Linked DNA regions of Homo sapiens. The protein of the gene in region 1 purifies or fractionates together with the protein of each later gene. This does not show direct contact. Each region holds a gene or a part of one and is shown in the gene's direction. Other genes may lie near its edges. The genes, in order: RIOK2, MRPS33, NKAP, NSRP1, MACROH2A1, PIP4K2A and LTV1.

What was found.
Region 2: the proteins of RIOK2 (region 1) and MRPS33 fractionate together in Homo sapiens (co-fractionation; one large-scale study listed by BioGRID). This does not show direct contact.
Region 3: the proteins of RIOK2 (region 1) and NKAP purify together in Homo sapiens (affinity purification with mass spectrometry, with the first as the bait; one large-scale study listed by BioGRID). This does not show direct contact.
Region 4: the proteins of RIOK2 (region 1) and NSRP1 purify together in Homo sapiens (affinity purification with mass spectrometry; one large-scale study listed by BioGRID and IntAct). This does not show direct contact.
Region 5: the proteins of RIOK2 (region 1) and MACROH2A1 purify together in Homo sapiens (affinity purification with mass spectrometry; one large-scale study listed by BioGRID and IntAct). This does not show direct contact.
Region 6: the proteins of RIOK2 (region 1) and PIP4K2A purify together in Homo sapiens (affinity purification with mass spectrometry, with the first as the bait; one large-scale study listed by BioGRID). This does not show direct contact.
Region 7: the proteins of RIOK2 (region 1) and LTV1 purify together in Homo sapiens (affinity purification with mass spectrometry; one large-scale study listed by BioGRID and IntAct). This does not show direct contact.

Annotation. Positions count from the first base shown.
Region 1 is NC_000005.10:97,169,748-97,173,247, reverse strand, and holds part of RIOK2 (serine/threonine-protein kinase RIO2), read left to right. Parts: coding exon 1-73; intron 74-1,850; coding exon 1,851-2,042; intron 2,043-3,500. UniProt on the Homo sapiens protein: Serine/threonine-protein kinase involved in the final steps of cytoplasmic maturation of the 40S ribosomal subunit. Involved in export of the 40S pre-ribosome particles (pre-40S) from the nucleus to the cytoplasm.
Region 2 is NC_000007.14:141,008,453-141,011,952, reverse strand, and holds part of MRPS33 (small ribosomal subunit protein mS33), read left to right. Parts: intron 1-1,292; 5' UTR 1,293-1,319; coding exon 1,320-1,534; intron 1,535-3,500.
Region 3 is NC_000023.11:119,933,752-119,937,251, reverse strand, and holds part of NKAP (NF-kappa-B-activating protein), read left to right. Parts: intron 1-569; coding exon 570-640; intron 641-820; coding exon 821-955; intron 956-2,694; coding exon 2,695-2,758; intron 2,759-3,500. UniProt on the Homo sapiens protein: Acts as a transcriptional repressor. Plays a role as a transcriptional corepressor of the Notch-mediated signaling required for T-cell development. Also involved in the TNF and IL-1 induced NF-kappa-B activation.
Region 4 is NC_000017.11:30,182,816-30,186,975, forward strand, and holds the end of NSRP1 (nuclear speckle splicing regulatory protein 1), read left to right. Parts: intron 1-1,799; coding exon 1,800-2,859; 3' UTR 2,860-3,660; downstream 3,661-4,160. UniProt on the Homo sapiens protein: RNA-binding protein that mediates pre-mRNA alternative splicing regulation.
Region 5 is NC_000005.10:135,343,732-135,347,231, reverse strand, and holds part of MACROH2A1 (core histone macro-H2A.1), read left to right. Parts: intron 1-1,174; coding exon 1,175-1,264; intron 1,265-2,551; exon of another isoform or gene 2,552-3,500. UniProt on the Homo sapiens protein: Variant histone H2A which replaces conventional H2A in a subset of nucleosomes where it represses transcription. Nucleosomes wrap and compact DNA into chromatin, limiting DNA accessibility to the cellular machineries which require DNA as a template.
Region 6 is NC_000010.11:22,610,079-22,613,578, reverse strand, and holds part of PIP4K2A (phosphatidylinositol 5-phosphate 4-kinase type-2 alpha), read left to right. Parts: intron 1-3,500. UniProt on the Homo sapiens protein: Catalyzes the phosphorylation of phosphatidylinositol 5-phosphate (PtdIns5P) on the fourth hydroxyl of the myo-inositol ring, to form phosphatidylinositol 4,5-bisphosphate (PtdIns(4,5)P2). Has both ATP- and GTP-dependent kinase activities.
Region 7 is NC_000006.12:143,856,838-143,860,337, forward strand, and holds part of LTV1 (protein LTV1 homolog), read left to right. Parts: intron 1-465; coding exon 466-607; exon of another isoform or gene 608-744; coding exon of another isoform or gene 745-746; intron 747-914; coding exon 915-1,170; intron 1,171-3,500. UniProt on the Homo sapiens protein: Essential for ribosome biogenesis.

The DNA of each region.
Region 1 (3,500 bases):
AATTTCCAGTTCCAAAGCCAATTGATTACAATCGTCATGCAGTGGTCATGGAACTCATAAATGGTTATCCACTGTAAGTATTCATTATTCTTAAAGCCATGAATCCTGATAAATGAATTTAAGTTTCAGGGTTTTTAATAAAATTTTTTTTAGTTAATGAAATATTGCCTCTGGGAGGTTAAAATTTATTTAAAGGAATAGACTCAAAGACAAATTAAAAACCCAGTTTCATTCTGACAATATGAACTTTGTAATCTCTGTGATTCATTCATTCATTCAATATTAAGAGACTGTTAGGTGCCAGGAACTTTTAATCTCAGCAGTGAACAAAACAAAGTCCCTGCCCTCATGGAATTTACATTCTGATGGAAGGAGATGTGCAATAAATAACTAAAGGAAATGTATATCAATTGTTAGTAAGTACTATGGATAAAAAAAAGCAGAGTAAGGGAGATAGGAAGTACTAACGGGACAGGAGACTACTGTTTTATGTAGGGTGGTCAAGAAAAGTCTCACTAATAAGGTGAAACCTCATCAAATTTTGATTCAGATTAGCAGCTATTGGAGTGGGAGTATTTTGAGCAGAGAAGAGATGTGATCTCATCAATCAGTGATCTCAGTGTTTTCAGAGGGTCACTCTGCTTGCTGAATTAATAGACTCTGGGGAGACAAAGAATTAGGAAGACAAGTTAAGAGGCTATTACAATAATCTAGGCAAGAAATGGTTGTAATTCTGATTACAGTGATAGTTGTGAAGGTGATGAAAAGTGGTCAGATTCTGAATGTGTTCTGCAGGTTGAACCAACATGATTTGAGATTGGATATGGATGTGAAGGAAGGGATGAGTCAATGGTGACACCAAGGTTTTTCCCCTGAGTAGCAAATTAACTGGAAGGAGAAATCTACCATGTATAGAAACAGGAAAGCTACAGGAACAGCATTTTGGAGTTGGAGGGTGGGACAGAATCAGAGATTCCATTTTGGACATGCTAAGTTTGAGATGCCTGGGAGTTAGAGAAGTCTACATTAAAATCAGTGTATATGTGGTATTTAAACCATTAACCTAGATGAGATCACCAAGAATGAGTCTAAATAAGAGAAAATAAAAGGTCATAGGATTGACCTTTGAGGAACTCCAGAATTTAGAGGTCAAGGAAAAAGATGAAGTACAAATAGAAAAGACTAAGAAGGTATGATCTGTGAGGAAGGAAGAACACCTGGAGAGAATGGTGTCCCAAGAGTTAAGTGAAGAAAATGTTCAAAGAGGTCAACTGACAGACCACATATGATGAGGACTAAGAATTGACCTTTGGATTTAGCAACATTGAAGTCATTGTAGTCTCAACAAGGGTGATCTTGGAAGCACTTTGGCCTCCCAAAGTGCTAGGATTACAGGGGTGAGCCATTGCGCCTGGCCCGTACATGCTATTATTGATTCTGGATGTGGGTGTGTTTGTTTAGAATATAATCATTTTTTCATAATTTTTCAATTTTGTGATACTATTATTTAGGTCACTCACTGGTTTGAAGTGGCTAGTGTTAACGTTATAAAAAGCCTGTTTGAAATGGTATGAGAGAGTAGGAGGAAACAAATTGGAAAAGCACATGTAGACAAGTTTGGCTGTAAAGATCAAAGAAAGGTAGTAGTAGAAAAGAGATACAGAATTGAAGCAGTGTGGCTATTTTTTTAATAGATGGGAGATATTATATCTGTGTGCTGATGGGAATGAGAAGAAAGCTGCTGGGGATACACAGCATGGAAATAATATATATGTTCACATGCATACATACTTTCGTTAAAACCGTAAATGAACACAAGTAACCTATTTTCATGCTTAAAATACTTTCAGATGTCAGATACACCATGTTGAAGATCCTGCATCAGTATATGATGAAGCTATGGAACTAATTGTCAAACTTGCAAATCATGGGCTGATTCATGGAGATTTTAATGAATTTAATCTCATTTTGGATGAAAGTGACCATATCACCATGATTGATTTTCCACAGATGGTTTCAACTTCTCATCCCAATGCTGAGTGGTACGTACTTGCTATTTTTTTATTTTTATTTTATTTTATTTTTTTGGAGACGGAGTTTTGCTTGTTGCCCAAGCTGGAGTGCAATGGCGCGATCTCGGCTCACTGCAACTTCCACCTCCCGGGTTCAAGCAATGCTCCTGCCTCAGCCTCCCGAGGAGCTGGGATAACAGACATGTGCCACCACACCTGGCTAATTTTTTGTATTTTTTTTTTTAGTAGAGATGGGGTTTCTCCATGTTGGTCAGGCTGGTCTTGAACTCCTGACCTCAGGTGATCCACCCGCCTCGGCCTCCCAAAGTGCTGGGATTACAGGGGTGAGCCATTGCGCCCGGCCCTTACATGCTATTATTGATTCTGGATGTGGGTGTGTTTGTTTAGAATATAATCATTTTTTCATAATTTTTCAATTTTGTGATACTATTATTTAGGTCAGTCACTGGTTTGAAGTGGCTAGTGTTAACGTTATAAAAATTTGGTTTTTTATTAAAGTATAACTACTAGAGTTTTCCCCATAAGAATTTGAATTTCTCTGTTGTAAATTGACAGACGTTCAAAAGTCAAATTTTCTTAGCCATGGAACCCTTTGTTCAAACAGACTTTTAGATGGAAGACCAATTGTTAAAACAGGTAAAAGTAGGGAGTGTAGTGGGGAACTCTAGAACCACTTTTGTCTTTCCCTTTTTCTTGCTGTTCCATGATTGCCTCCAAGAGAGATTCACCAAGTATAACTCAGTAATCTCGATGATCTGAATAAAAGTTGTGGTTTTGGACTGGACTCAGTTGTCAAACCAGTGATAATTACCTCTTGTCACTTTTAGCTTTATTTATTAGAAAAAAAATCACATAAAACTTTATCTCTGACACAGTGCAGAATCATGATATACTGCGATAATCATATTCTTCACATTACTTATTTAAACCAAGCCAGCCAAGTCATGAAACAGGACCTTATCCTTTATTTGCTTGAGGTTTATGATTCAATTGAGTGTAACTAAGGATTTTTTTTTCTTTCTGTTCCAAGCTTTATGAGAAACTTTTTTCCTAAACTAACAACTAGTATCACTTATATAATAGAGTATATTAATTCTTCCAGAGATTGAGCTTGAAGTAGTTTTGTTAAGTGAAGCGTCTCTTCATCCTGGTTTCCAGTAGAAAATGTCTATACTTATGCTACAGAAAGAAATGTCATTTGAAAATAAATTTTTAAAACGTTTTCAACAAAATAATACTAAAAGATTAATGCCTGGCACTGGGGTGGTCAGTACTCTTTGGATGATGACTAATCATGATTTTTATTAATAAGGAGTAACATAGTCACACAGTAAAGGAACATCTAGGAGCCTCCAGAGTGTGACAGATTATGACATTCTAGGTTTAGGCTGCATCGTTCTATGGAGAGACATTGTGATTTAATTTCAATTTTTATGAACCAGTTCTGGGGCCAAGGAGCTGTGCTAA
Region 2 (3,500 bases), on another chromosome or scaffold:
TGGTCTTGAAGTCCTGACCTCAAGCGATCCTCCCACCTCAGCCTCTCAAAGTACTGGGATTATAGGCATGAGCTACCATGCCCAGCCTCCTCTGTTAATGGATCTTGAAACAGGCATTAAAACTTCCTTAATTTAAACACGGTTTGTTTTCTTACAAGAACTATTTTGAAATTCACTTGGCACCATTTTTATGTAGGAGGGTTTTTGGTACATTTCTCCCATTGGTTTTTCAAAGTTTATGCCTTTTTCCTGCTTGAATATCAGCACCTTTTCATCTCAGCTGAACTGTTTCCCAGGATAGTCTCTGAGTCAGCAAAGATTCTCATCTCACTACTAAAATTTCTCATAAATTGGCATATTCTGCCAACAATAACCCCTACGTCTGGTCTAAACTGAGTTGAGATAGTTATTCCACCAGCAGCTTTCTTGATTTTTATGTATCCCCTGTATAGTTTTTTATGTCTGTTAGCTGTAATTCGTGCATATCACGGATATCATTCTTATACCCATTTCAGTGTTGTATGTCTCTGAAGAAAAAGCTACTGTTTCCAGCTGATAAGAACTTAGGTAGTTTGCATTAAAGCAGAATATATAAGATGGAGGATACAGCAAGTAACCTTACAATTCATACGTGCCTTCTATTTAGTAAGAAAATGGATCTTTTGAGCTATTGGATTTATTTTTATAGGGCTACTGTCTGTTTTTCCCAAATGGCTCTCAGTCTCTAGGCAAAATTCAGTTCAGTAACCTAGAAGCCAAATGACCTCATAACTCATTAGCAGCTCTCAGAGCCTTCTGGAGCCCTTGAGGAGAACAGTGTTCAAAGGACTGATAGTAAAGACAACATAATTATGTCTCTGCCATGATTACACCTTTTGATGGCAAGCAGTCAGCATATTAATGCTGCAGATTGCTTAGGTGGGTGTTTTCTGAAGGTATAATGATGCTGGATTAGGATAACTTGTTTCCCTGTCTTCTTCATCCCCAGCCTACAAATAGGTAAACTGACTGTCAGTAAATAACCTGGTGAATCACAAAATAGTTGGTTGCAAAGGAGGCAATACAGCAAGGAAGTAATAGCATGTAAACACGAAGTGCAAAAATCGCAGCTGTAAAGCATGGAAAGGAAATAGCCATTTGGACTGTGGATACTTCTCCACTCCAAGGCATATCCTGCCAACACTGCACTGATCCATGAGTGGCTTGCTGTGTTTGCATTTTCTAACTTATTCATTAGCTAATCTTGGAATTTCTTACCCTAACCTGTTTAACTTTCTTCTCATTTTCAATAGGAACTCTAACTCCTTGCCACTCAAGAAATGTCCTCCCTTTCAGAATATGCCTTCCGCATGTCTCGTCTCAGTGCCCGGCTATTTGGTGAAGTCACCAGGCCTACTAATTCCAAGTCTATGAAAGTGGTGAAACTGTTTAGTGAACTGCCCTTGGCCAAGAAGAAGGAGACTTATGATTGGTATCCAAATCACCACACTTACGCTGAACTCATGCAGACGCTCCGATTTCTTGGACTCTACAGGTGATGACAAACACAAAGAGGGACCTATGAGAGACTTTTTTTCAGTAGATCAGAAAAGGAAAAAAATTAGCCTTTCTATCCTTGTAGTTTTGTTCTTATAATAGAGCCCAGGTAGTTCAAAAGGTACAGTTGGCAGGAGAAAGTCTTCTTTCAAAATACCCATAATGGAGAGACCAAAAAAAAAAAGGAAATTCATGCTTGTTGGAAGATATATTTTAATTATGTCTACAACATGACTAATGTTGAATAGATACTGAGCTGTAGAGAGGTGTTTAATCATTTGTTAATCTAAGAGCACTCTAAAAAGGATGCCAAGAGGCCAGGCGCAGTGGCTCACGCTTGTAATCCCAGCACTTTGGGAGGCCGAGGCAGGCAGATCACGAGGTCAAGAAATCAAGACCATCCTGGCCAACTTGGTGAAACTCTGTCTCTACTAAAAATACAAAAATTAGCTGGGCATGGTGGTGCACGCCTGTAGTCCCAGCTACTCGGGAGGCTAAGGCAGGAGAATTGCTTGAATCTGGGAGGCGGAGGTTGCAGTGAGCCGAGATCGCGCCACTGCACTCCAGCCTGGCAACAGAGTGAGACTCCATCTCGAGAAAAAAAAAAAAAAAACAATGCAGAGAAAAACTGGTCCAAGTACTGAGGAAGAAAGCCTCAGAAACACCAAGGTTGCCAGGGCAGTGGGCTCTTGTTATCAGATGAACAGAGTCCCTGACCGACACCTGATCTGCTGCTTAACTGGTATGTGGGAGCCTTCTTTCTCTTCTGGTGGCATTTTTGTTGACATTTCTTCCTACTGTCTTCTGGCATTTTTATTTTGTACCCTTTTTGACATATTAATTTGGTCTAGATAAGCTGTAGTTTGCCTTTAAGGATAATACGTAAATCACACAGGTTCTTAACACCATGTGTTTGTATGTGTGTGTATGTCTAGGGAGTAGGTGCTTAGAACTGTGTGCATCTCTGAAAAAAAAAAAAAGATCAGGCCAGGCACAATGGCTCAGGCCTATAATCCCAGTGCTTTGGGAGGCCGAGGCAGACAGATCATCTGAGGTCAGGAGTTTGAGACCAGCCTGGCCAACATGGTGAAACCCCGTCTCTACTAAAAATACAAAAATTAGCTGGGCGTGGTGGCACACGCCTGTAATTCCAGCTACTTGGGAGGCTGAGGCAAGAGAATTGCTTGAACCCAGGAGATGGAGGTTGCAGTGAGTCAAGATCATGCCACTGTACTCCAGCCTGGGTGACAAAGCAAGACTCTATCTCAAAAAAAAAAAAAAATCAAATACCTGTGTGATCTTTCTCATTAAATTATTTTTTTGGCCAGGTATGATAGCTCACAGCTGTAATCCCAGCGCTTTGAGAGGCCAAGGCGGGCAGACCACTTGAGGTCAGGAATTCAAGACCAGCCTGGCCAACATGGTGAAACCCCGTCTCTACTAAAAATACAAAAATTAGCTGGGTGTGGTAGCACATGCCTGTAATCCCAGCTACTTGGGAGGCTGAGGCAGGAGAATCGCTTGAACTCAGGAGGAAGAGGTTACAGTGAGCCGAGATCGTGCCACTGCACTCCAGCAACAGAGCGAGATTCGGTCTCAAAAAAAAAAAAAAAAATTATTTTTTTAATTACCAAACTAATACATGCCCATTACAAAAGAATTCAAATAGTACATAATTGTATAAAGTTAAAATACCTACCATCTTTTTAAAAATTTAACAAGTTGTAATTGGAGTTGTCTTTGGGCAACAATACTAAAATTATTGGGAACCATTTATTCTAATACAATAGAATTAATAGTACAGCACAACATTCATTGCAGATCACTAAAGATTGGTACATTCACTATCCAGTGGATATTTCTTACGTACCTTCCACGTGCAGGCACTTAAGATGGCACTAGGGGAACAGCAGTGAACATAATAGATGTGCTTGGTTAACATTAGAGGTTACAATCTATGACAT
Region 3 (3,500 bases), on another chromosome or scaffold:
CCTTTTCTAAACTATTGTAGAATTTGAATAATACTCATTTTCAGAATTCTCTGCAACAGAACAACATCTCTTTAGACTGTAGTTTGTTAGGTTTTTGCTCTGAGGAGACAGAACAGTTGCTGCTTTACCATTTGTCTTTTACGTGCTTAAAATAAAATTATAAAGTCTTTCTTCAGCCTTCTTATACCCAGTTTCTTTAATCTTTCCTATGGTTCCTGTTTCTCTACTTTTTCCCTGTGGTTTCTTGTGAAAATATAAATCCTCCATGCTGCTTTGTTTAAATAGTACTATGTAAACTCTAAAGTGTTATGCAAATGATAAGTTATTTTATTATTACAAAGATGGTAGACCCTTGAACTGCACGTTTATGAAAGTAGTTCAGTGCTTGCTTTGTTGTTGTTTTGGTTTTTTTGATTCCCAAGTTCTGCCTTAGGATCTCCAATGCTTGCTTTTAATGGTTCTTGGACAATCGATGCTGTTACTGAAAAATTTGGAGTTCATATCTTTACACTCCATGGTCCATATCTCATCACTTTCCTAATTCTTATAACCATTTTATTTAAATTCAGTTCTGATGAACATACACCAGTGGAGGATGAAGAGCCAAAGAAAAGCACTACTTCAGCTTCTACTTCAGAAGGTATTTTTAAAAAAAGGGTATTTTTAAAATACAAGCTATTTTATTGAGAGATTTAAAAAAATCAGTTTGTAAATAGTTGAACATTAGACTTTGCTTTTACTCAAATTGCCCATCGTCTGTTTCTTTTGATGTTCAGAAATAGTTTTTTAGAATATAATTTTTTAATTTGTACTTTCTTAGAAGAAAAAAAGAAGAAGTCTAGCCGTTCAAAAGAAAGGTCCAAGAAAAGGAGAAAGAAAAAATCATCGAAAAGAAAACATAAGAAGTATTCTGAAGATAGCGACAGTGACTCTGATTCTGAAACAGACTCCAGTGGTAAGAACGCCAACAGCATTCTGCAAGCCTTGCTTCAAAACTAGTTTTACTTCTTAAAACTTATTTTAGAAGAAGGTTCCTGAAAACAATAATAATACTGAAGAGTTTTTGAACACTTGCTAACCTTGTGCCAGGTACCCCAATAAGTGCTTTATATTTATTATTGCCATTTAATCCATACAATAACTGTAGGGTACATCTTATAGATGAGGAAATGGAGACAGAGCAGGTTATAAGTACTATCCCTAAGGTCACACAGTTTGGATTCAAACCTAAGCAATCTGACTCCGGATTGGGATTGGTTGTGCAAAGTGTACAAGGCACATGGCACCAGACCAAGTCAGGGGGTTGGGCTGTACCAAAGTAAGCCTTACAGGGCTGCATCGGCCCAGTGGAAGGGCTCTTTTGTTTAATTCTCATGCCCAATGAGCACCTCTACAGTTTTCAAAAAGGTATGCCATAAAGTGCCTACTTCATGCTGGCTGCCTATTTGTGGAAGGCACCCTATCTGGGGTAGTGCATCACAAAGAGTCTCCTTTTTGTACTCTCTCCTGGCTGATGATTGACCAGAAGGTGCCTCCTCTGAGGTTAACACATTACACAAAGATTCACCTTCCTCTGATATCGCCGAAGTTTCCTGGCCCTCCCTGTCACTTCTCTTCCTCAGTGCTCGAAGACAGAACTTTCAAATATTTCTGTATGCAACACTTAAAAAGAGGCATTTTTATACTTAACTACAACACTATCTCATACAATAAAATTAGTAATAATACCCTATACACCAAATACCTACTTAAAATCCTTCAATAGCACTCCATAGCCTTCAGGGTAAAGTTCAGACCCTGACTCATTTCTCTCTAATCACATATACCCTGTTACACTCTCTTGCAACATCCTCTGTAATCTGAAAACTACTTTCTGTCTCCTCAGTATTCCATGTTCTTTCTCTTGTTACTTGGTAGAGAGGCCCTCTGCCTACAATGCCAGTCTCTCCCTCCATCCAGCTTGGTTTACTCATTGCACCAATGGGCATGCATTACTTTTGTAATCAAAGAACTACTTTAAGAGTCACCTTTCCTGATCAACCATTCCTCAGCCACCCTCCTCAAATCAGTCTGATTTTGAGACTCCTCTGTGTGTCCAGGTTCCCCAAGCTTCCCTCTATCATTCCAGATTGTATTGATCTCTTTACCTATCTGTCTCCTCCATTAGACTGAGCTCCAGGAAAGGATTCTCTCTCCCCTCTCCAACACACACATAGTTTTCTTTCCCTTTTTATCACAAAAATATTTAAATATTCAGAAAAGCGAAGAGAATAGTATAATTAATACCATATACTTAATCACCTAGATTTGGCAGTTGTTGGTATTTTTACATATTTGCTTCAAATATGGGTTTTTCACTGAGATAGTCAAAGTTAATTACAAATATCATCACACTTCCACCCTAAATATTTCTGTATGCATCCCGTAAAAAGAGGCATTTTCCTAATTAGCCACCACACTATCTCACACAATAAAATTAATAATAATACCCTATATCATCAAAACCTAGTGACTTTAATTTCTATGTTCATAGTACCTCCCTACAGTTCGTGACAAATAGCAATAAATGTTTCAATGAGGTAATTTCTTTGTAACAATAAATGGGACAGCAATAGGATAGTTACCTACTCAAAAGTACTACGGTTTTAGAGTTAAAAAATTTTTTTCTTAATTGTAATGTGCTTTAATTTGCAGATGAAGATAACAAAAGGAGAGCAAAGAAAGCCAAGAAAAAGGAAAAGAAGAAGAAACACAGATCGTCAGTTTTTTAAGTTTTATTATGGAAAATTTCTTTTCTTTTTTTTTTTTTTTTTTTTTTTTTGAGACAGAGTCTCACTCTGTCAGGCAACAGAGTGCAGTGGTTCGATGTCAGCTAACTACAACCTCCGCCTCCCAGGTTCAAGCGATTCTCATGTCCCAACCTCCCGAGTAGCTGGGATTATAGGCACCCACCACCATGCCTGGCTAATTTTTGTGTTTTTAGTAGAGATGGGGCTTCACCATGTTGGCCAGGCTGGTTTCGAACTCCTGACCTCAAGTGATCCTCCCACCTTGGCCTCCCAAAGTGCTGGGATTACAGGAGTGAGCCACTGCACCCGGCCAGAAAATTTCAAATGCATATAAAATTACATAAAATAGTATAATGATCCTTCCTGCACCTGTCATGCAGTCTAAATAATTATCAACTCATGGGCAGTATCTGCCATCCATCATTTATTTTGGACCCAATCTCAGATATCATTCCATCCATAAGCAATTCAGTACCTTTCTCTAAAAGATAGGCATTCTTTTTGTTTTGTTTTGTTTTTTTTGAGATGAAGTCTCGCTCTGTCGCCCAGGCTGGAGTGCAGTGGCGCGATCTCGGCTCACTGCAAGCTCCGCCTCCCGGGTTCACAAAGATAGGCATTCTTTAAAACAAAACAAAACAAAAAACTGGCCAGGCACAGTGGCACATATCTGTAATCTCAGCACTTTGGGAGGCCAGGCAGGAGGATCGCTTG
Region 4 (4,160 bases), on another chromosome or scaffold:
CCCAGCTACTTGGGAGGCTGAGGCAGGAGAATGGCGTGAACACAGGAGGCGGAGGTTGCAGTGAGCTGAGATTGCGCCACTGCACTCCAGCTTGGGTGACAGTGCAAGACTCTGTCTCAAAAAATAATAATAATAAATAAATAATAAAATTAAGTAAATAAAATTTAAAGTTTTGATCACAGCGGCCACATTTCATATACTCAGTTGCCATATTTGGCTGGTGGTTGCCATACTGGGGACAGCTCACATATGAACATTACCATTTCTTGAGGCATTTCTATTAATGCTGGTCTAGAAGGTAAAGGATTAGAGGATTTTTGAATAAAGTTATAAGGTATTATAGGAATGGTGAGATGATTATGCCATAATTATGTAGCTGAAGGTAAAAGAGTCTGTCCTAAGCAAAAAAAAAAAAATTTTTTTTAACAGGAATGTTCTGGGTAGATCTGAGTCTGTGTTGCTAAGGAAGGGAAGAGGTAGGAGAATAGAATTAAGGTGAGGAGAGGAAGTTTATGCCCCACTCCCTCCCTACGCTGCTAGGCTTTGATTATAAAATTGGTGAGAAGTATGAACCTAAGAAAATGTATTTGAAGATTCAGGTTTTGAATGGAAATTATATTACGTTATATCTTTGTATTAGAGTTTCATCTGGAATATTTATTAGGCTGCCATGAAACTCTGTAATGTCGTTGACATAGTTGTACTTCTTAGAGTCTAATAATCGAATTCCTAACTGTTAGTGGGTCCTTTAGCCAAGATAGTTCTGCCAGTAATTCCTGGAGAACCAAAGTTGTTGCACCATTAGTGTGATTAGTAAGTGATTAGTAAGAATCACTGAGTGGTTCTTATTTACATTATACTCATACTATAAAGTTAACTGTACTTGCCAGCTGGAACAATGAAGGTAATATAATTTTAGTATTGTTGATTCTAATGGACAAATTAATATATTTCCATTTTGTTGTGATAGGTGCCAAGGAGTGAATCAGGATACACTCATGAGAGAGAGTAAATATTTAGGATTATATTTGCCACTATTTTGCTGTGCAAAGATTATCTTCATGTATTTCTAGGACTATTTTTATAATTTTTTAAAAAGAAAAAGGCCAAGCATGGTGGCTCACACCTGTAATCCCCGCACTTTGGGAGGCCAGGGTGGTTGGATCACCTGAGGTCAAGAGTTTGAGACCAGCTTGGCCAACATGGCAAAACCCTGTCTCTACTAAAAATACAAAAATTAGCTGGGCATGGTGGTGCAGGCCTGTAATCCCAACTACTCGGGAAGCTAAGGTGAGAGGATCACTTGAGCCTGGGAGGCAGAGGTTGCAGTGAACCGAGATTGTGCCACTGCACTCCAGCCTGGGTAACAGAATGTCTCAAAATAAATAAATAAGAAAGGAAACAACAAATCCAACAGTCACAACTTAAGCTTCATGTTGTGAAAATAGAACTTAGATTCAGAACATTTATTACTTTTCCCAATTATTCTTTGTCTTAGGCTTACCAAAAAATGAAGACCTGTACAGACCCTTGCCTGTAGGTTCTAGTAGTATAGTAGACAAGGGCTAATTTTCTCTTTTCACTTCTACAAATATTGAAAATATTCTGAATGGTATGAATTTGAAAATACTAGTTTGCATAGACATCAGGACCTTTTTGCATTTGGATAATCAGACAGTATATATCACTATAGGTGTATTGATTTGAGTATTGATAAAAATTATATGAACCCTTCATTTGCTTATTACAACTGATAATGTGGCATTTTTTTCTGCCCTTTTTTGTTTTTTGTTTCTAAGATCTGGTATAAAGGAAGAAAAATCAAGGGGCTTCTCCAATGAAGTAAGTTCAAAAAACAGAATACCACAAGAGAAATGCATTCTTCAAACTGATGTGAAAGTAGAGGAAAACCCAGATGCAGACAGTGACTTCGATGCTAAGAGCAGTGCGGATGATGAAATAGAAGAAACTAGAGTGAACTGCAGAAGGGAAAAGGTCATAGAGACCCCTGAGAATGACTTCAAGCACCACAGGAGTCAAAACCACTCTCGGTCACCTAGTGAAGAAAGAGGGCACAGTACCAGGCACCACACGAAAGGATCACGAACGTCGAGAGGACATGAGAAAAGGGAAGATCAGCACCAGCAGAAGCAATCCAGAGACCAAGAGAACCATTACACTGACCGTGATTACCGGAAAGAAAGGGATTCTCATAGGCACAGAGAGGCCAGTCATAGAGATTCCCATTGGAAGAGGCATGAACAGGAAGATAAACCAAGGGCGAGGGACCAAAGAGAAAGAAGTGACAGAGTATGGAAAAGGGAGAAAGATAGGGAGAAATATTCCCAAAGAGAACAAGAAAGAGATAGACAACAAAATGATCAGAACCGACCCAGTGAGAAAGGAGAGAAGGAAGAGAAAAGCAAAGCAAAGGAAGAGCATATGAAAGTAAGGAAGGAAAGATATGAAAATAATGATAAATACAGAGATAGAGAAAAACGAGAGGTAGGTGTTCAGTCTTCAGAAAGAAATCAAGACAGAAAGGAAAGCAGCCCAAATTCTAGGGCAAAGGATAAATTTCTTGACCAAGAAAGATCCAACAAAATGAGAAACATGGCAAAGGACAAAGAAAGAAACCAAGAGAAACCCTCTAATTCTGAATCATCACTGGGAGCAAAACACAGACTCACAGAGGAAGGGCAAGAGAAGGGTAAAGAACAAGAGAGACCACCTGAGGCAGTGAGCAAGTTTGCAAAGCGGAACAATGAAGAAACTGTAATGTCAGCTAGAGACAGGTACTTGGCCAGGCAGATGGCGCGGGTTAATGCAAAGACCTATATTGAGAAAGAAGATGATTGATGGCTACCCCAAGAGAAAGATTTAAGGAAGCACAGAAAACTGTAATTCCTGGAACCTGCTGCGTAAAACCATAAAGGAGTGTGTTACCAGTAGTTTGGAGGGCATTTTTAAATTTATTTTCAAAATTTTAAGTTAAAAGTCAGTCTTACAGCTTGGATGTTTGGATGTGGATGTTTGGCTGAATTTATATATAGTGTGTACTCATCAATACCACATTCTTTGTTGTATTCAAGAACCGTTAAGAGTGTGCTAATTCCCTGTAGGTACATAATGAGGAAAATTTGCTCCACTACAACCATTAAAAAATAATTTTGGCCAGATACGGTAGCTCGTGCCTGTAATACCAACATTTTGGGAGGCCAAGGCAGAAGGATATTGAGGCTAGGCATTCAAGACCAGCCTAGGCAGGATAATAAGACCTTGTCTCTATTTAAAAAACAAAAAGCCTAGCATGGTAGTCCATGCCTGTAGTCCCAGCTGTTCGAGAGGCTGAGGCAAGAAGATCACTTGAGCCTAGGAATTTGATGTTACAGTGAGGTATGATCATGCCACTGCACTCCAACCTGGGCAACAGAATGAGACCCTGTCTCTAAAAAATTTTTTTTAAATAAATAATTTAACTCTTCTAATAATGTTTTGTTGCAGGAAATGTATTTCAGATAAAATATGGATTTGAAAAACAGAAAATATACTTTATGTTCTGAAATTTGTATTTAAGTATAAAATGTGAATCATCTTGTCTAAATAGCTTACAGCATAGTTGGCTTAAATGAAAATAAAATGATATGCTTATACATTTTATTTATGCATTTATTTTAAAATAATTTTACTCATGTCACAATTCATCTTTTCGCTTTTAGTAGAAATTAATTTGTAATTCTGAAACCTTGACAAGTTAGTAAATTGGTTATATATGTAAATCACTTTTAGTTAAAGGTGAAGCTGTGGAGACATTAGCCTAAATGAAATTAGCTAAAGATCTAGGTGGCCTGTTTCTAAACATGTCTTGTTTCACCTACTCTGAAAAAGATAGTGCAGTTTATTACAAGTTCCACTTGTGTATAAAAATAAAACTAGTATCTTTCTTCTGAGTCTTTGAAACTCAGGAGAAATAATTATACACTGTAAATATTTTATTTATGGGGAAAGATGAATGCTGTGGAGAAAATAGTTCTCTACTAGGTCTTCCCATTAAGAAAATGCTGTTCATATATCTCACAATACTCTACCTAAAGAGCACACTTTCTTATTTTTAGAAGGATAAACTTGGTTTAATAAGAATGCTGACTAGATGAAATATA
Region 5 (3,500 bases), about 38 Mb from region 1:
ATTCAAAGGAGGCAAGTTTCACTAAGATAATTAACCCTGGTCATCGCAGGGTGACTCCAAAGAGAATTTGGGCTGGTGCATTCCGATGCACCTTGACCGTCCCATACCAGAATTGTGCCAGGTGCACCTGGAATTTTCCAAGACAGATGTGAATCTTAAGGGGAGTATTTTGTCCTCTTGTGAGGAAAAGTACTTTAAAATGTGCAAAACTGAGGAATCAGAGCTTAAGGAAGACTCAGACCCCATTCTGGCCAAACTTGAAAGGCTGATCTTGTTGCTAACTTTGATTGCCACTTGCTATCCCACATGAGCATCAACCCAGAGTTCTCATAGGTGTTGGTGATCTTGTTTGGGAACTTGGTTTTCACAGCAGGAACTGATTACTTAGCAAGTGCCCTAATTGAAGAAAACACATTGCTCCCAATCTCCATTGGCTTTTGTGAAAAATCTGGTCCTGAGCAGTTAGACATCCTCCTTTCCAAGCTTTTTATAGAACACAGATTAATCTTTAAGCTCTGCTTCTGATGTTGCCCTTCTTTACTGAAAACAATTCTGAATCATTAGTGTAATTAAGAAAATACCGTCTGAGGCCATTTTTATTTTGTATTTGCATATGACACCAAAGCTGCAAAACAGGAACTAAGCATGGTAATAATGCTGGTCCAAAGGTGGCCAGGTATGAACACTTCCTTCTAGGCCTGCTGCCAGGAGGAGAGCTGGCTTATTGATGGGAGCATTGTATGCTGCTGAAACCTCCTTACTTGGGGGTTCTCCCCAGAGACAGAGAAGAAAACCTAAGGCAGGCATTAGTCTTGGAAACCAGTACCAGCTAGTATCTCATGCCAATGAAAAGCATCCAGGACAAGCATGTTTGCAAAAAACAAGCATGTCCTGTCTCTTTCACATCTCTGGCACATCCATGATCACCCTGAGTCAGACCCAAATAAGGGGCAGCAGAGACAGCCAGATGAAGCAGCAATTTGAGGGTAGTAACTGGTGATGACAAAGCCCTTCTCAATTTTACTTTATTAACTTAGCCAAGGCTTAGTTCCTGTTTTGCAGCCTGATGGAAATTTAATAGATCATTTGAAGTATGTAATCACCTGACATGCTAAGTGTCTGTGTGTGCCGGAGACACAGAATGGCAACCTGACCCCACCCTGTCCTTGTCTAGGAAACACGCTGGAGAAGAAAGGTGGCAAGGAGTTTGTGGAAGCTGTCCTGGAACTCCGGAAAAAGAACGGGCCCTTGGAAGTAGCTGGAGGTGAGGTGGGAAAGCCACCGTGCTTATCTGGTTGTGACACATGCAGTATTAGGAAAGCCATTTTGTGAGAGGGCTTAGAATTCAGAGGTGTGTGGCAGCACAGCCGCATCTTCAAGATGGAGGCCAAGGACAGCCTGTAGCTTTACATCTTAGAGTTTCACCACATGCAGGTTGTCTGGGAAAATCACCTTTGCATTTTTTTTTATTACTTAAAATAGCTCCTATATGTTTGATGTCTAGATCACAAATTTTAAGAAATTATAGGAGCTGAGTTTGGTACATCTAAGAGCTGAGAGTGAGTGATACTGAGCCATCTGCAAAACTGCTGGTGAGAGATACAAATTAAAAATCTTCAGCCATCTGTGTGTGTAAGAGGAAACATATAAATACACATTTCTCATTTGCCAATTACACCTTCCCTGGTATAAGGGGAAGAAAACGACTTGGCATCTGATGTGGGGAGAATTATTGCTAAGACCTGGAGGCAGGGTACTTCTTACTGCTTCAGGCCTGAATTTAGGTGGTCATTTGGGGTGTGCAGGACAGAGCACCTCCTAAGGACCTGAGAGTCCAGTCAGTGGGGAGGCCCAGCTCCCCCACCAACTGTGTGAGGACAGATCACCCACTTCCTCACTTGGGGCTCTGGTTTTCTCTTCTTACTACCCGATTCCAATGCCTATTGTGTCTTTTAAATCCTCTGTTTTAAAAATGAATCTTAAGCTCTCTCGGAGGGTCCACCAGGCCGTGCACCTCTATTCCCAGTGACAAATGACACCCCTTCCAGGCTAGTCTCAGGATCCAGTAGGATTCCCTTTGCTGATCTGTGCCTTTGACCTCTGCTCTGCCACTTCTGTTTTACCTGCAAGGGGCATGACATACAGGGTAGTAATTATGAAGTTCTCCCAGGCAGTTCCACCAAAGTCCCACATTGTACAAGGGAAGGCATACACAGTTTTAACTACCTAGCCAGGGGCAGCTGGCCTTTCCCCAGGCCCTTTAAAACACCTGTTTGACCAGCCTGTGGGTCCTTTCCCATCGGGGTTCCAGCTTGAGTCCTGCTGGTAGCCCTTGGCACAAGGCCTGGTAGGCAGCCTGGTGCTGCCATGTACCAAACTCTGCTGGGGAAACCTCAGCCACAGCAGATGCAAACCCATTAGGTATAGCATGGTTCAAGATATTTTTGCTTGTTTCAATAACACTTTTGTTCTTGATTTTAAGGGCTATTTTAGAAACTGCTTTAAAATATTTTTGAAAGTATAAAGAGGTGAATAAAACATACTCCTGTTCCACTGTGCAAAGATAGTCACTGTTAATGTTTCTTTCCAGTCGTTTTCTATGCATAGTTTAGCCATGACTTCTCATGGGGACAAACCCACTGGTTTAATTCAACCCCCAATGTCAGGTTTTTATAGGTCAGCCCAGAGTTCTCAAGCCCAGTCACAAAGCAGAGCCAGGACTCAAATTCACACCCTGTGACTGAGCTGTTTCCACTGTACCATGAGACACTACCCACAAATCGCTCCTTCTCCAGTATCTATGACACGACCATAACAAACCATACCCCTTGGACAGATATTCCTTAAAAAAAAAAAAAGTTTCAGAAATAGCCAACCAAATACAAAAAGTTTGGATGTTTTACTTTAGCAGTGGTGTGGAGACTCTGGTGTGCTCTTGTATAGAAGCGTAGCATGCAGCTAAACCCAGTGCCCTGGAAACCTTCTTTGCAGAGCATCTGTGGACAGGGGTTCTGGAACATGCTCTGGGAGACATGGTACTTTGCAGTTTGTGGCAGACCCCAGGCCTGTGTCCTTAGATCTGGCAAGGGAAAGGCAAGTCTTTGGTGGAGATGTATAGCTAGAAAGGGGCCCCTCTTCTAGGAAAAGAAAAACACAGTTCCTTAAAAACTAATCTAATTCTGCCACAAATAAACAGGATCCGTTATTCACACAGTGAGGCCATCCTCAGCAGGGAGAAGACAATGGCAGAGTGGAGATGCTGGTCAGGTTGCTTAGCAGATCATTTAAAGCAGTTGCTTTCCTAGTAGCTTTGTCCTGAATTGGGTTTGGGAGATTTAGAGAATACATCATAGTAGAGACAAATACATCATATTGGTGTGCAAGTCGATAATTAGCACACCAGTCGACTTGAAGAAGAAGGGTTGGAAACCCAAAACAATTATTTTGAGGCTGCAAATGTTCTGACACGTTGAGTTTGCGTTCAGTTGAGTTTTGATGGA
Region 6 (3,500 bases), on another chromosome or scaffold:
CACTCTTAGCAGGTGGCCATGGCCCTAATCCCCAGAGAAAATAGGAGCCAGTGGTCGGGAGCCCCATCTTCCCTCCATCAGTTCTGCTCCCTCCCCATGACACCTATCTCTTTTCCCTCCTGTGAACAGGAAAGTCGCTTCCCTCCTCAGAGCCTCTCCTTCCTGCATGCCTGAATCCCATCCCCTCCCACTTTCTCGAGAAGTGCTACGGAATGTCCCTTCTCTGTCAGGTCCTCCCTCTGTCCCTCATCCCTCTTCATCTCGCTCCTGTCCTTCCCTGCCAGGCTCCTTAGAAATCAGCCCTGTGCAGTGCCAGCATTTCCTTAACTCAACTTAGTCTGGGTTCCATTGCTACACTCCACCGAAACAACTCTGCCAAGGTTGCCAAGGACCTCCTGTGCCGTTCAATCTGGCTGACATTTCCCAGTCCCTGCCTTCTCAAAAGCATCATGATCATCCCATAGCATGTTTGAACCCCCTTTTCCCTTCACTCCCATTGGGTGGCCCTGTGCTTTTTCACTTCCTGCCTCGATGGCAGTTTTCCCCTTTCTCATCCTCTTCTCCAGGCTTGGAAACATTCCCGTTCTTGAAGACTGCTTCTCCGCCTTCCTCCCCATCACACCGGCCCCTCTCCAGGTTACCTCATCCACTCCTCTGGGGAGCTAATGTCTGATGCACAGATACACACATTTTTATCTCTTGCCCCTGCTGCCCCTGGGAACTTCAGACCCACCTGTCCACGGCCTACCTGACATTGACACTTAGATGTCCCAAGAGCGCATGAAGTTTAACAAGCTCAAAACTGAACTCTTCTCTTAAGATGCATTGTGCCAGTCGTTGGACCCACCAGCTTCCCCCGCATGCATGCAGCATTCCCTCCATCTTTCCCTACATTTCTAGTCTGTCATCATCAAGCCCCATAGATTTCAGCACTTCAGCATGCCGGAGTCTCTCTGCTTCTTTCGTTTCTGCTGCCGCCTCCGCCCTCTGCTGAGCTGCTCTCCTCTGTCTGGTGCAATTCTACAGCAGCCGCTTCCCGGTGCTCCTGGGCCTGTTGTTCATCCCTTTCATGCCACGCACCTTGTCTATTTCTGCACTGTTTTCCCATTAACAGTGTCCCCTCCTCTCTAGGACTCGCCTTCTTCCTGGAAGCCCTGTCCACCTGCCCTCTCCTTTCTCCACGAGCCATTGCTGCCCAGGGAAGCCTCACATGCCTCCCCCATCTGGCCTGGGCCTTTTCCATACTTGCTCGTAGCCCATTGTGCTTCTCCCTCCTGACTCTGTCATTGTTAGAGTTCAACACTTGGGGCAGTTCTTCAGTTAATGTGTCTGCCCCTCTGGACCATAAGCCCCAAGAGGACAAAGACTGGTGTCCGAGCTGTGCCCAGCACAGAGTGGACTCTTAAAGGTTGTGCTGACGCGAGGATGGGTGGGGAAGGAAAATCAATAAGGAAAATTCTCAGTTTACTCATTCCATGTTGGCTGAAGTTTTCATATTTTCTCCACAAAACATGTTCCAGAGCAGGTACCATAAAGCAAAAGGATGCAGAAAGTTTCTGGTTTCCTGTTTCCTGTCTGAGAAGACTCTCTTAAGTGATACTGATTTAAGCAGCCTGAGGAGGCATCAAAGCTTTGGAGGATCTGCTGAACACATCACGCGCATTTAAATAATCAGTGTCTGATCCCACCTCCACGTTGGGTTTCGCTTTCTCTTGTTCCACAAGATATCGAAGTGCTGATTGAGTTGGCATCCAGCTTCATTCGCATTGTGTTTATTATCACAAGACTTGGATTTCCATTATGATTTTCTTTTTCTGTTATTTTTCAAACTTTGATATTCCACTGATAGCATAAGGATACATAAACTTTAATTTTTCATAGATATACTCTGGGAATGACTTAGTATCATAAGATGCTTGAGTAAAGTGAACTGGAGAAGCTATATGACGTTAGATTCCTGTTTTTGTTCAGTGGGTTTGAGAAGCTAGCTGTCAGCTGTCACTATCATTCCTCTGTTGTGTTTGCCTTTTCTCTCTGGCCACCATTCCTTTCTTCTCTTTGCATTTGGCCTTCTTTAGTTTAACTACAGCGTATCTAGGTATGCTTTGAGTATTCTTACTTATATATTGCTTTGAGTATTCTGCTTTTTTTTGTTTTTTTTTTGTTGTTGTTGTTTGTTTTTTGTTTAACAGACATGGATCCACTCTGTCACCCAGGCTGGAGTGCAGTGGTACAATCACAGCTCACTGCAGCCTTGAAATCCTGGATACAAGTGATCTTCCTTCATCAGCCTCCTAAGTAGCTGGGACTACAGGTGCACACCACCACGCCCAGCTAACTTTTGTTATTTTTTTATTTGTTAGAGACGAATTCTGTTGCCTAGGCTGGTCTCAAAGTCCTGGGCTCAAGCAGTCCTCCTGCCTCAGCCTCCCAAATTGCTGGGATTACATATATGAGCTGCTGTGCCCAACTGTATCTACAGATTTATAACGTGCATTAATTGTGGAAAATTCTGAATCATTATTTTTTCAAATATAATCATCTTTTGTTCATCTTCTATTTCTGTATAATTTCTCACAGCTTAAAAAATTCTATATCTGATCATCTTAGTAACTAAAGTCTTGAAAATATTAATTAGTCGTTGCTGTCTCTGTGAGCTCATGTTTGATTGATCTTCATCTGTGGGAAGCCTGGAGGCCTGGCAGGGGTTGCTCTCCTCCGGAGATCATTTACATTTACTTCCACCAGGTGTTGGGGCCACTTTCAAAGGCTTCCTTCAAGGATCTCAGGTTAACGTTGAAGCCTTTGTTGAGCTCCCAGCTTTCGTTTGGCCCAAGTAAGTGTTGAAACTGGCATTTGTCCTCGGAGTCCCTCCTTTCAGGCTTGCTTAATGGTCCCCACACTCCCTGTGGATTAAACTCACTTTGGGGGAAGAAAGGTGTCTTGGAGATTGCCTCTACTGTCTGTGAACCCAGCAATGTGATTAAAAAAAACAAATAGCTCTATCAAGCAGCTCATTCTTTTGTTGTTTGCTTGTTTTGTTTTTGTAACTGAGAATCCTTCAGCGTACCTGCCTTCTATCCTACTGGAAGCATAAATCTTTGACATGGTTTTTATTGCTAGCAACAAGGAAAGTCAACATGCAAAAATAGTTAACGAAGAGAAAGTTCAGGTTTTTCAAAATTGTGTCCAAAGCTGTCCCTTTCATTCACTGGAACTTGATCTTACCCTTTGTCCTTTGGAAACACATCTTTGCTTTTGTTCTTGACTCATGTCCAACCCACCTCCTTCTCTTGTAGTCCTGGGACCACGTGTCTTCTTCCTTCCCTGAATGGAGGTTCTTCTTTTGGTAAATTCATGCCCCACCCCAATCTTTATTTTTAAACTTAGTTCCTGTAAGGGAAGTAAAGAGCACACAGATGAGTTCAATATATAAATCACGTCCATTAATCCAACAAATATTTACGTGAAAAATTTAAAAGCTTTCTTTCTCAGATAAC
Region 7 (3,500 bases), on another chromosome or scaffold:
AACCAGAGCTCTCCTCTATGAGGTGTCTATTGACCCCTGATGGGAGGTGTCTCCTAGGCAGGAGGCACAGGGGTCAGGGACCCACTTGAGGAGGCAGTCTGTCCCTTAGCAGAGCTTGAGCACTGTGCCGGGAGATCCGCTGCTCTCTTCAGAGCCGGCAGGCAGGAACGTTTGAGTCTGCTGAAGCTGTGCCCACAGCCGCCCCTTCCCCCAGGTGCTCTGTCCCAGGAAGATGGGAGTTTTATTTATAAGGTCCTGACTGGGGCTGAGGCAGCATTTTGTTTCCTTTTTTTGTCTTGGAGTGTTCATTCTTTATTCTTCACTAGACTGAACTTAGTTCTTAATCGTTCTTTTATCCTCAATATATTAATAGACTCTTGCTATCATAGGTCCTTATATTGTGAGTTAAGTGAATGAATTGTTGCTATCTTGGGAATTACTGCTTAATTTTTGTTTTCCTTCTAGGACCTCGACTGGATTTTGATCCTGACATTGTTGCAGCTCTTGATGATGATTTTGACTTTGATGATCCAGATAATCTGCTTGAGGATGACTTTATTCTTCAGGCCAATAAGGCAACAGGAGAGGAAGAGGGAATGGATATACAGTATGTGTGGTTTGTTTCAAAGCAGAGATGATGACCTAAGTGTTACTGCTTCAGTGGGATGGTAACCATAGAACGTTACAGTTGGAAGAGACCTTCAAGAGCATTTAATCTGAGACTTCTGTATTTTAGAGCAGAAAATGTGAGATTCATTGCTTTTCCTACCAAACCAGATTGATCAAACACCCTCACTCTTCCTGCCTAGACAAGAACCCTTCCTGAAATACCTTCCAATTTTACTTGTGTAAAGTGGTTTTGTTCTGTTACTTTTTAAGTTGTTTTGGTAGGTAATTTATGACCTTTACTTTAGGAAATCTGAGAATGAAGATGACAGCGAGTGGGAAGATGTGGATGATGAGAAGGGAGATAGCAATGATGACTATGACTCTGCAGGCCTATTGTCAGATGAAGACTGTATGTCTGTGCCCGGAAAAACTCACAGAGCTATAGCAGATCACTTGTTCTGGAGTGAGGAAACAAAGAGTCGCTTCACGGAGTATTCGATGACTTCCTCAGTCATGAGGAGAAATGAACAGCTGACCCTACATGATGAGAGGTTTGAGAAGGTAAGGTCCCCACATAAGGGATGCTTTAGTACTATCTTATGTTAAATTTTTTTTTTTAATACCTGTCAGCTTTAGCCCAGGTTGAAGTGCTCACCAACCACAAAGTCAATCATAGGAAGTTTACAACTATCCAGCTATAGGTTCGTGTAGCCAGCATAAAGCAGAAGGGTATCAGTGCAGTACAGGAGCACAAAGACTGCAAAGGGAGCATAGAACTGTGCAGAAGAAGAGTAATTGGTTAGGAGGATGTGACTTTTCCAATTTACATCACACGCTTACACCAGGAGGTGGCTCAAATGATGCCTCATTCAACCTGAATGGGTAACCAAAAGTAGCTGTAATAGTTTTATTCTCACTAACTGTGGTAGGACAACTCACTTGAGTTTCTATTTGGCCCTTAAAACCCCCAGAAGTGGCCCTTAAACCCTCACCATCTCTAATGTTGTGCTTCTTTATTATGTATGTCATATATGGATTTGTCTCAGATTAGAATGTGAATCCCCCAAGGGCAGAGAGTTTTTTATATTTTGCTCACGATACATCTGAAAGCCTAAAATGGTGTCTTGGCATGTAGTAGAAGTTTAAAGTGTTCCATAAATGATAAATGAATGAAGGAATAGTTTCCTTCAAGGTGACTCTAAAGATAGAAGCAGTCCACTCAAGGACCTTGACGAAGCCGAGCGGGTTGAGGTTGATCTGGAAACTGGAACATCCTCTGGCCAAGTCAGCTGATCCGCCCGCGAGCTAAGTAGATGTTAGGCGCCTTGCTGTGTGCCTTGTTTTTTTTTGTTATTTTTCTTTTTTTATTTTTTAAAAAGAGAGATTGGGACCCAAAGCTAAAACTTTTGAGTGTTGAAAACAGCGTATCTCTTTATTAAAACAGAGCATAAAAGCACCTTAGTTATTGTCGTTTTCCCTTTACATATTCTATGAGGCCAGTCACCCTAGTTTTGATTCTGGAAAGAACGTGTGTAGGTCAAAAGGAGTTGGCTGATCAAACGTTCTTATTTTCCCCCTTGAATTCTGACATCCTGATTCTGAATTTCTCCAACAGTAATCCATAAGATGCTATATTTCTGAAGTATTGGCCTGATTGAGCACATCAAAATTCCATTTCTTTCCGTTTCTCATCTGGTGTTTTCAGACATAACTAACACTGAGGAATAGAATGGAAGTAGAGTATAAGACACTTTTGAAAGCTTGTATTTTCATATACTCTATTTGGTTCTGTTGTAACAGATTAGCTCCAGGGTTTATAATCCCAACCTATAGACTGTTTATACAGGTTTTTAATCCCACCTATCCTGTTGTTTGTTCTGTAGCACATAACACCTCCTAACATCATCTCTAATGTTGTGCTTTATTATGTATGTTATATATAGATTTGTCTCAGATTAGAATGTGAATTCCCCAAGGGCAGAGAGTTCTTTGTATTTTGCTCACGGATACATCCAAAAGCCTAAAATGGTGTCTTGGCATGTAATAGAAGTTTAAAGTGTTCCATAAATGATAAATGAATGAAGGAATAGTTGCCATCCAGGTGAATCTAAAATAAAGGCTGTTACCTTGCTACCTTCTCACCTAATACTATTTTCCCTCTTCTCTTGAGGGAGAAACAAACTGTTGCTACAAATCTCACTCTTCAGGAGATATATCCCCCCCATTTACTCTTTGTCAAAGCTTAACAGTGTCAACACCATTTGCATAATATAGTAATTATTGTCTAAACAAGAACAAATATATACATTAGTAGGTGAATTTTCAGTTGCACAATCTTTTAGTTTGCATAACTAAGGAATATGAAAATATCTTTAGTCTAGGCGTAGTGTCTCGTGCCTATAATCTCAGAACTGTGGGAGGCCGAAGCAGATGGATCACTTGAGCCTAGGAGTTTGAGACTGTCTTGGGCAGTGCAGACCCTGTTTCTATTTAAAAAAATAAATAAAATGGCCTGGTATGGTGGCATGTGCCTGTGGTCCCAGCTGCTTGAGAGGCTGAGGTGGGAAGATTGCTTGAGCCTGAGAGTTTGAGGCTGCAGTGAACTATGATCACGCCACTGTACTCCAGGCTGGGAGACAGTGAGATACTTAAAAAAAAGAAAAAGTATCTTCAAAAATGTTCTGACGTAATCTGTGCTGCCTAGCATTTTGTTCTCCAAGCTGAGTGGAATAATGCCTTTCATTTACATGTTAAATGGAAGCCTATTTTTAGGCTAAATGTAAGTCTTAAAGTACTGAGCAGAAATATCTTCCACATCCTATTGTTGCATTAAATCCCTACTGATATTTTAATGGTAATTGTGATAGTACCTGAATAACTATTGTGTAAGA